2 separate regions of the Homo sapiens genome follow, and region 1 is linked to region 2. A link means that fine-mapping ties the variant in region 2 to the expression of a gene that starts in the linked region. Tissue or cell type: T cells. Region 2 holds a variant in brackets; the other region holds the start of a gene. All regions are shown on one strand. Distances are between the middles of the regions. Region 1 holds the start of TMEM45B (transmembrane protein 45B). Region 2 overlaps TMEM45B (transmembrane protein 45B).

Region 1 (4,387 bases), 39 kb before region 2:
GTGTGATTAAGTTCCTGAGCTGACGGCAAATTTAAAAGATGCCCTCTCAGCTCCTGGCTGCGGCCCATCCTCCCTGTAAGGTGCACGACTCCATGACGCTTTTCACTGACGGCACTACCTCTTGGCCATTACCACCTCCCACCAGATCCCATTCGCTCTGTTTTACCAGGGAAAGGTCTGCTCCAGTTAATGCCTTATCCTTCACAGTGATGTTCTTTGACTTTATAAAAACGGAGCCATTTGGTCAACAGGCTGCCCGTCGGATCCCGTGTCCTTCTGCACTGCTAATATCTAGCTGTGGCCCTGCTTTAAAACCCAAATGCAAACATCTCTTCCATGAAGCCCTTCCTGATTGCCAGTGCCCTCAACAGTGGAATAAGCTGCCAGGCATCTTAGAGATCTAGACCCGTGGTTCTCAACCCCCACTTCCCCAGGCCTCCTGAGAAGCTTTTAATAGGTGCATCAGCCCTGGATTCTTACCGGCAGGACTGAGAGGGAGCCTTAACGCTTGTGTTCTTCTAATAGTGTGCACAGGGTTGACGGGAAACACACACACACACAGTGCAGAACCATTCCACGAAGCTGTGTATCCGGAATTGGTTCCCTCTGAAGAGTTCCTGGTCCCGGTCCTGCCGCGGACCTTCACGGCATTATAGTTCTTAAACATGGTGTGTCCGGAGTTTGTTCCTTCAAATGTTCAGGTGTGTCCGAAGTTTTTTCTTTCTAGAGAGTTCGTGGTCTATGCACGACTTGATGAGTGAGGCCGCGGACCTTCGCAGGGAGTGTTACAGCTCTTAAAGGTGGCGCATCCGCGTTGTTCCTTCCTCCCAGCGGGTTCGTAGTTTCGCCGACCTCAGGAGTGAAGCCACAGACCTTCGCAGGGAGTGTTACACCTCTTAAAAGTGGTGCGTCTGGAGTTGTTTGCTCCTCCCTGTGGGTTCGTGGTGTCGCTGACTTCAGGAGTGAAGCCACAGACCTTCACAGTGAGTGTTATGGCTCTTAAAGGTGGCGGCTCCAGAGTTGTTTCTTGTGGTGGCTTCCTGGTCTCGCTGGTTTACAGGAGTGAACCTGCAGACCTTCACTGTGAGTGTTAAAGCTCATAAAGGTAGTGTGGACCTAAAAGGTGAGCAACAGCAAAATTTATTGCAAAGAGCGAAACAACAAAACCCCAACACCATCGAAGGGGACCCAAACGCAGCTGCCGCTGGCTCGGATGGCCAGCTTTTATTCCCTCATTGGCCCCGCCCACATCCTCCTGATTGGTCCTGCCCACATCCTCCTGATTGGTCCATTTTACAGAGCGCTGATTGGTCCATTTTACAGAGTGCTGATTGGTCCATTTTACAGAGTGCTGATTGGTCCGTTTTTACAGAGTGCTGATTGATGTGTTTACAAACCTTTAGCTAGACATAGAGCATTGATTGGTGCATTTACAATCCTTTGGCTAGAGAGAAAAGTTCTCCAAGTCCCCACCAATTAGCTGGACACAGAGCACTGATTGGTGCATTTTTACAGAGTGCTGATTGGTGTGTTTACAAACCTTTAGCTAGACACAGAGTGCAGATTGATGCTTTTACAATCCTTTAGCTAGACAGAAAAGTTCTCCAAGTCCCCATCCGACCCAGAAGCCCAGCGGGTTTCACCTCTCAGTAGCTTACAGAAGAGGACCCTGCTGCCACAGCACAATACCACAAAGAAAGTCATGCTCTCCTCAGCAGGTAGCCCCCTTCTCCGGGACAGGAACTTTGTTTCCTTCTTAGCTCTATCGCCAGCACCTAGAACAGTGCCCACCTGTCAGATCTGTTATCAGATGGGAACATGGCAGATTTGTTGAATGAATGAAGGAATGAATGAACTATGTGACACTCAAACTTAGCCACCAAACTTAAACTAAAAAAACTGGGTTGTGGTCCCTGATGGACCGTTGGCACCTTCTTCCTTTGCTGGACGGTGATCCGTGGCTGTTTCTGCGGTGTGTTCGCAGTGGTTGCCTGGCTTGGTAACAAACACTCTTCGGAGCCACAGCCTGTTCTCAGGGTCCTCGCCGCCTCCCAGGCCCTGCGATCTCTTTGCATCTCAGGAGGTCCAGGTTGGTTGCAGTCCTCTTGGGTGACTCAGGAACCAGCCTCTCCTGAAGCACACAGCTTAGGGAGTTCCTGAGGCCAGAGACATCTCCACGGGAAAGTCAAAGGCCTGGAGGAAGTGCGGACCTGACGACAGATGCCCCGCACGCTGGCCGGGACCGGGAAGGGCGGTCAAGGGTGGAAAGGGGCTGGCGGCTGCCAGGCCTGGCGGAGTGGAGCGGGGCGGGGCGCAGCGGGGCGGGGCGGGCCTGGAGCTGCACCTGCTTCTGGGCGGACGCACTTGGCGCGCGGCGCGGGCTGCAGACGGCTGCGAGGCGCTGGGCACAGGTCAGACGTCCGTACCCGCAGGGGGCTCGAACCTGGAGGAGGGCTCGAAGGGAGAGGGGGCCCCGCCAAGGAGCGGGGCTGTGATGGAGAGGAGGTTCCGACTCGCAGGGGACCTGCGGGGGAGGGGACGCGGACAGGGAGGGGCTCTGGGACAGGGGTGAAGGCTGCGCTAGGGGAGGACGGGAGGGGATGGAGGGCCCTGGTGTCGCGGAAGCCCAGCTGGGGCCCCCTCCGGGCTGCGGAACCGGTGCGCACACTACTCCCACCGCCCCCGAGTGCCTCTGTCCGGCTGGCCGCGGCCCTGGAACGAATATTGCTCAGTCCCCCGCGAGTCAGGTCTGCCGCGTTGCCCGGTGAGGGGAAGGTGTGAAGCCCCGGGCCTCCGTCTGCCCGGTGAGTCCGGGGACGCGCGCCCCCGGGGATGCCATCTGGCTCCTGGGCTGTGACCAGTCACAGCTCACATAGCTCTGGGCACTGGTACCGACTGCCTTTCCTTGTTAGCTGCGATACACAAATACACGAGCCAGATCCTTTCCTGAGGCCAGGAAGCCTGGAATCTAATAACACCGGGCGGTGGATAAAGTCCCCCGAGCCAGTGCTTAGCTTCCGTTAATGGAGCCATGGATGGAAGCGGATGTCAGGCGCAGTGGGGGAGAAATTTGCGGGGGTGGCCCTGTCTAGGGCCAGAGAAACAACCTCTGAAGCTTTGATCCAGCCCTAGAGGGAAGAAAGATGTGAGTTTCAGCCAGGGAAACGTAGCACTTTAAGAAATAGAAACCCTTTCAAAATTTGAGGGCAGGTAGCTCTCCTAAAAGTTGCAGAAATGGCCACTTCTTTTTTTTTTTTTTTTTTTTTTTGAGACGGAGTCTCGCTCTGTCGCCCAGGCTGGAGTGCAGTGGCGCAATCTCGGATCACTGCAAGCTCCACCTCCCGGGTTCACACCATTCTCCTGCCTCAGCCTCCCGAGTAGCTAGGACTACTGGCGCCCGCCACCACGCCCGGCTAATTTTTTGTATTTTTTTTTTTTTTGGTAGAGACGGGGTTTCACCGTGTTAGCCAGGATGGTCTCGATCTCCTGACCTCATGATCCACCCGCCTCAGCCTCCCAAAGTGCTGGGATTACAGGCGTGAACCACCGCGCCCAGCTAGAAATGGCCACTTCTTTCACGTTCTCTTCGACCGCTTTCTGCGGTGTCTGCCCTTTTCCTCCTCCTGCACCTTTTTGTCTCCTAGGGTCGCATAGCCTTCCAAACAGGCCTGCCTACAGCATTTTACCTGCAATTTTACACTCATTTTAATAGAAAGGATGGCTTATTGTTCATGAGAGACGTGTACTGTTTTTAACCAGATGTGTAATATCTTCAGTATAACCTGGATGTTGTGCAGTGGGAAGTTATGGAAAGAATCAGGACACGTGGTTAGGTAGGGGCCCAGGGGCGTCAGACTTAGCTCTTTGTGACAGTGAGCTTCTTGGTTTAATAAGGATATTGGCTCCCTCTGTTCCTGGGGTTTCTGGGAAAAGATATGGAACTGATATGAAGGTTTTATTGAATATGGCCCACTGATTTTACAAGTGGAGGTGACTGAGATAAGCAGAAGGTGAGGCATGACCTCTGGCTGTGCATTATTTGTTCTGATATTACAGGAGCCAAGCATTCCATTTCCTTCTTTTTAAAGAGCTTTGATTTCCTCTCACATCTTCATGAAGATGGAAACAGTGCCCCCACTTACTTATCCTCAGGCCACACCTGTTCCCATTTATTCCATGAGTTCCTCCCACACCCTTCTGGTTGATGTTGGTTGTGATGGTCGAGGTAATTGAATCTCACATTTGGCACCAGTTATTTCTGTTTCTCATCTCCCCCCTACCTGCAGTTAAACATCAGCTGCTATACTTAACTGTTCAAAGTACAGATGTTACCTGTGTTGGGTGTAATCAAAAGATTATCTCTTTTCCTCAAATGAAAAATGGGTGA
Region 2 (4,384 bases):
CACAGGTATGGAAAGTTGTAGGAGCAAAACACCCACTGTATGAAAAAGATATGACACAAATAAAAAGAGAAAAAAACAAAATAGATTAGGCTCACGTACCTTAGTTGTGACAAAGTAGAAAAATCACCTTTTTTCCTCAATTGTCTCTCCCTCCAGATCCTTACAGTAGTTAACACCCAACCCACTGGCTTATCTTCATCCTCAAGTCTCAAGCGCTTATAGAGAGTTTATGTAGATTCGTAAATTAGCCAGTGGGAGAGAAAAAGCAGCAGAGGGCTGTTGAAGAGGAATTTTCCTTCACTCTGCCCCATTCCAACAAGATCCACCCACTCCCACTGTTTCCTTCGCATCCACTCCGCTCCACTGCGGCCCTCCAGGAACAAGCAGTGATGACAGTAACAAGTGTTCTTCCTCAGGACCAGCCCCACCTGGGGGGAATGAGGGGTCTTAATCTGCAACTGACAATTACCACTTGTCATCAGTGGCCTATGGCTTCTTGGAGAGAGTGAAGCAACATCGCTTCTCTTGGAGGAAGCAAAGCTTCACAGGGCTTTGTTGGTCTCATCCTGCTGAATGTCCCCACTCACCATTCAGGCATCAGAGAGGCCTCCCGTGAGAAGTGACAGGGACCTGTGGCTTAAAGGATCAGGACAGCATCAACCTTGCCTAAATAAAGCTAGGACAATTACAATATTTGGCCCCTTGACTGGGTGAAAATGGTACTCATTCAACAGCTCTCTGGCACTCCTACCACAAGCCAGGAAGTCACTGTTCCAGGCATAGGAGATACACTGGGGAACCACACAGCCGCTGCTGTCACAGGGCTTCCATTCTAGTGTCACTGGGACTTTTCCTGGGTCATTTCCACAACTTCCTGACTCTGTGTGTGGGAATTCAAAAAGGGTCTGGCTTGAGAAACAAGTATCTGGGAAACGGAGTCCAAAATGTCATCATGGAGGATTTCTTCTAGGCTTCCCCAAGAACACTTTGGGTACCAGGCATAAAGACAAATCTTTTGCCTTCCAAATTAGCTGATAAAAGTAGAAGGGATAAGAACTAAGAGCTATCCTGTGTCGCAGTTTCGTCATTTTCTGGCCCACATCCTGGGGCCTCTGCCTTGTTTACCCGGTGTTTTAAAACACACAGCTGGGAGGGGCGCAGGGCTTGCAGAGCTGGCTCTGTGCCCAGGAAGGACACGCACTCAAAATCAGCCCTGCAGACACGCACCTGGGAGCCGCTTCCCTCCCTTGGCACGTACAGGTATCTTCATTACCAGTGTGTCTCTGCTCAGATTCTGCTTTCAGCCTAATTGTTTCTGTCTGGGATTTCTTTCACTGCTCACTTGGCAGGGAAGCCCAGAGATTATTCTATCAGCCACACTCCGACTTAAGTGATGATGTCTTGCTCATCTCTGCTCCTGGACAAACCTCCTGGGGATCTATGTGTGTGTGGTTGTGTTCATTGATTCTTCTACCCTCAACCCCAAACCCCTAAAAGGAACAACAATGGCAAGATGTCTACACAGGTGACTCAGCACACACCCTACTTTATACTGAAGCAGCTGCACCTGAGGCAGCAAAGTAGCTCTGCTGACCCGCGGGCCACCCTCACCTCACCCCATCTCCGCTTCGCTCATGCCTTTGGGTTATTCCTTGCTCCTATTTGTCTTAGAGCTACTCTTCCCTCTAAAACATCCATCCTCATTTCCCTGCAGGGATCCTGGCAGAGCAGTTTGTTCCGGATGGGCCCCACCTGCACCTCTACCATGAGAACCACTGGATAAAGTTAATGAATTGGCAGCACAGCACCATGTACCTATTCTTTGCAGTCTCAGGAATTGTTGACATGCTCACCTATCTGGTCAGCCACGTTCCCTTGGGGGTGGACAGACTGGTTATGGCTGTGGCAGTATTCATGGAAGGTAATTTTGTGGAACGGATGGAGAGGAAGGAGAGCCTGACAAGTCATATTTATGAAGGATCAGAGTACAAAATATCAGAAATGTTGCAAATATAATAACCTCCCCCAGAAAATCCACATCTCTGGACTGCCAAAACCTGAATAGGACCTAGTGCTCTACTCTGGATGGGCCAGGTGACATATTCCCTAAAGTAGCTCATGAAAGCTTTGAGGCTTGAAGGCAGCTACCAAAGCCCCGGCTAACACTGCAGGAGTCCTCCTCGCCTTCCCACTGC[C/T]GCCAGCAGCCCCTGCTCACACACGTGCATATTCCTCGGTGTGGACGTATGTGCGCACATACACATGCGGGTACACACAATGCCCCAGCTGGTTGAATGCCACCATGCAGGGGATACACCCCTTTGGTTAAGCGAAACCACACTCTACCTTTTGCCCAGGGAGGTACCGTCTTGCCTCCATCACAAGCCTCAGGAGACCCACTCCACTGCCAGGGGAGCGCTGCCAGTATGACTCACACTGACTGGGGTATGAAAATACATTTTGTCATCTAACAACCTCACTTCTGTACCTCAGCAAGAGTCGAAAAAGGTTGAGGGCAAAACTGAATTTCAAGTATACACACACAGTCTGTTACAAATCAGCAACATGCTTCAGCCGGCCCATCCTATACTGACCCCACCATGGGTTCCATAGAGATTTTAAGATACAATCCCTTGCTGCTTTATACTCCTAACATACTCATGAAATACACTTACTCGCATCTGTTTGCTGCCTGTAATGTTATGTACTAACTGCCTAAATGCTGAAGAACCTAGCTGAGACAGGTGTAGGAGGAAACTTCGGTGATGGTGAAAGCCAAGCGTAGCCCTGACAGCTGCCATCTGGTTTGTGGCAGGTTTCCTCTTCTACTACCACGTCCACAACCGGCCTCCGCTGGACCAGCACATCCACTCACTCCTGCTGTATGCTCTGTTCGGAGGGTGTGTTAGTATCTCCCTAGAGGTGATCTTCCGGGACCACATTGTGCTGGAACTTTTCCGAACCAGTCTCATCATTCTTCAGGGAACCTGGTTCTGGCAGGTGATTTTCCACACCCAGGCCCCTCGCTGGTCTGGATGGAGAAGCCCCCACCGAGCGCATCCCAGAGAAATCCCTGACGAGAATATGGGGTCTGAAAATGCAGCATTAACATGCCATGCAAAGGGGTTTAGATGACCCTTTTCCCCCCATGCCCGCCCTTTGACTCCTAGTTTTATCCATTAACATCCAGAGGATGCATTAGCAATCCAAAATTTAAAGCATGCACGGTGACGTTCAGCTGCCCTCCCCAGAGGATGGGCTGATGCCTTTCACAGGCTCTGCTTGCTAAACTGTCCACTGGAAACGTGGGCCCTGAAGTTCTGTTTTGTTGTTTGTTTTGAGAGAGACTCACCCTGTCACCCAGGCTAGAATGCAGTGGCGCAATCTTGGCTGACTGCAACCTCCATCTCCCAGGTTCAAGCGATTCTCATGCCTCAGCCTCCTGAGTAGCTCAGGTTACAGGTGCCCGCCACCACACCTGGCTAATTTTTTTGTATTTTTAGAGACAGGGTTTCACCATGTTGGCCAGGCTGGTCTCGAACTCCTGAACTCGAGTGATCCGCCTGCCTCAGCCTCCCAAAGAGCTGGGATTATAGGCGTGAGCCACTGCACCTGGACTTGTGTTTTTAAGTAAGCCTATACAACCAAAATTAAGCTGAAGCCTTTTTTTTTTTTTTTTTTTTCTGAGACAGAGTCTCGCTTTGTCGCCCAGGCTGGAGTGCAGTGGCGCAATCTTGGCTCACTGCAAGCTCCACCTCCCAGGTTCACGCCATTCTCCTGCCTCAACCTCCCAAGTAGCTGGGACTACAGGCGCCCGCCACCACGCCTGGCTAATTTTTTGTATTTTTAGTAGAGATGGGGTTTCACCGTGTTAGCCAGGATGGTTTCAATCTCCTGACCTCATTATCCACCCACCTCAGCCTCCCAAAGTGCTAGGATTACAGGCATGAGCCACCGCGCCCGGCTTTTTTTTTTTTTTTAAGACAGTCTCGCACTGTGGCCCGGGCTGGTGTGCAGTGTCATGATCTCGGCTCACTGCAACCTCCGCCTCCCAGGTTCAAGCAATTCTCCTGCCTCAGCCTCCCAGTTAGCTAGGATTATAGGTGCCCACCACCATGCCCAGCTCATTTTTTGTATTTTTAGTAGAAACAGGGTTTCACTATGTTGGTCAGGCTGGTCTTGAACTCCTAACCTTGTAAACCGCCTGCCTCAGCCTCCCGAAGTGCTGGTATTACAGACGTAAGCCACCATACCTGGCCAGAGCCATTTTTCTATGTGAAAAGGCCTTTCTATGCTAACGAAGTGTGGGAACTATGAGGCGGTGGTCACACATGGGCCACTTCGGTGGCCACAGGAGAACGGCTAGATTGCTTCTCAGGACGACCAA

Evidence for each region.
Region 1: TMEM45B starts here. The variant in region 2 is fine-mapped to the expression of TMEM45B in T cells (TOPMed, PIP above 0.99).

What each region holds. Positions count from the first base shown.
Region 1 is chr11:129,813,488-129,817,874 of GRCh38, forward strand. TMEM45B (transmembrane protein 45B) reads left to right here and starts at 2,361. Exons shown (of 6, transcript NM_138788.5): 1 at 2,361-2,411. LOC124902793 (a long non-coding RNA gene) reads right to left here and starts at 1,200. Exons shown (of 2, transcript XR_007062952.1): 1 at 481-1,200.
Region 2 is chr11:129,852,896-129,857,279 of GRCh38, forward strand. It overlaps TMEM45B (transmembrane protein 45B), which reads left to right. Exons shown (of 6, transcript NM_138788.5): 3 at 1,715-1,921; 4 at 2,813-2,997. Among named protein-coding and RNA genes, the nearest start is that of TMEM45B, 39 kb to the left of the region's middle. The variant C/T (reference allele first, on the strand shown) is at 2,196.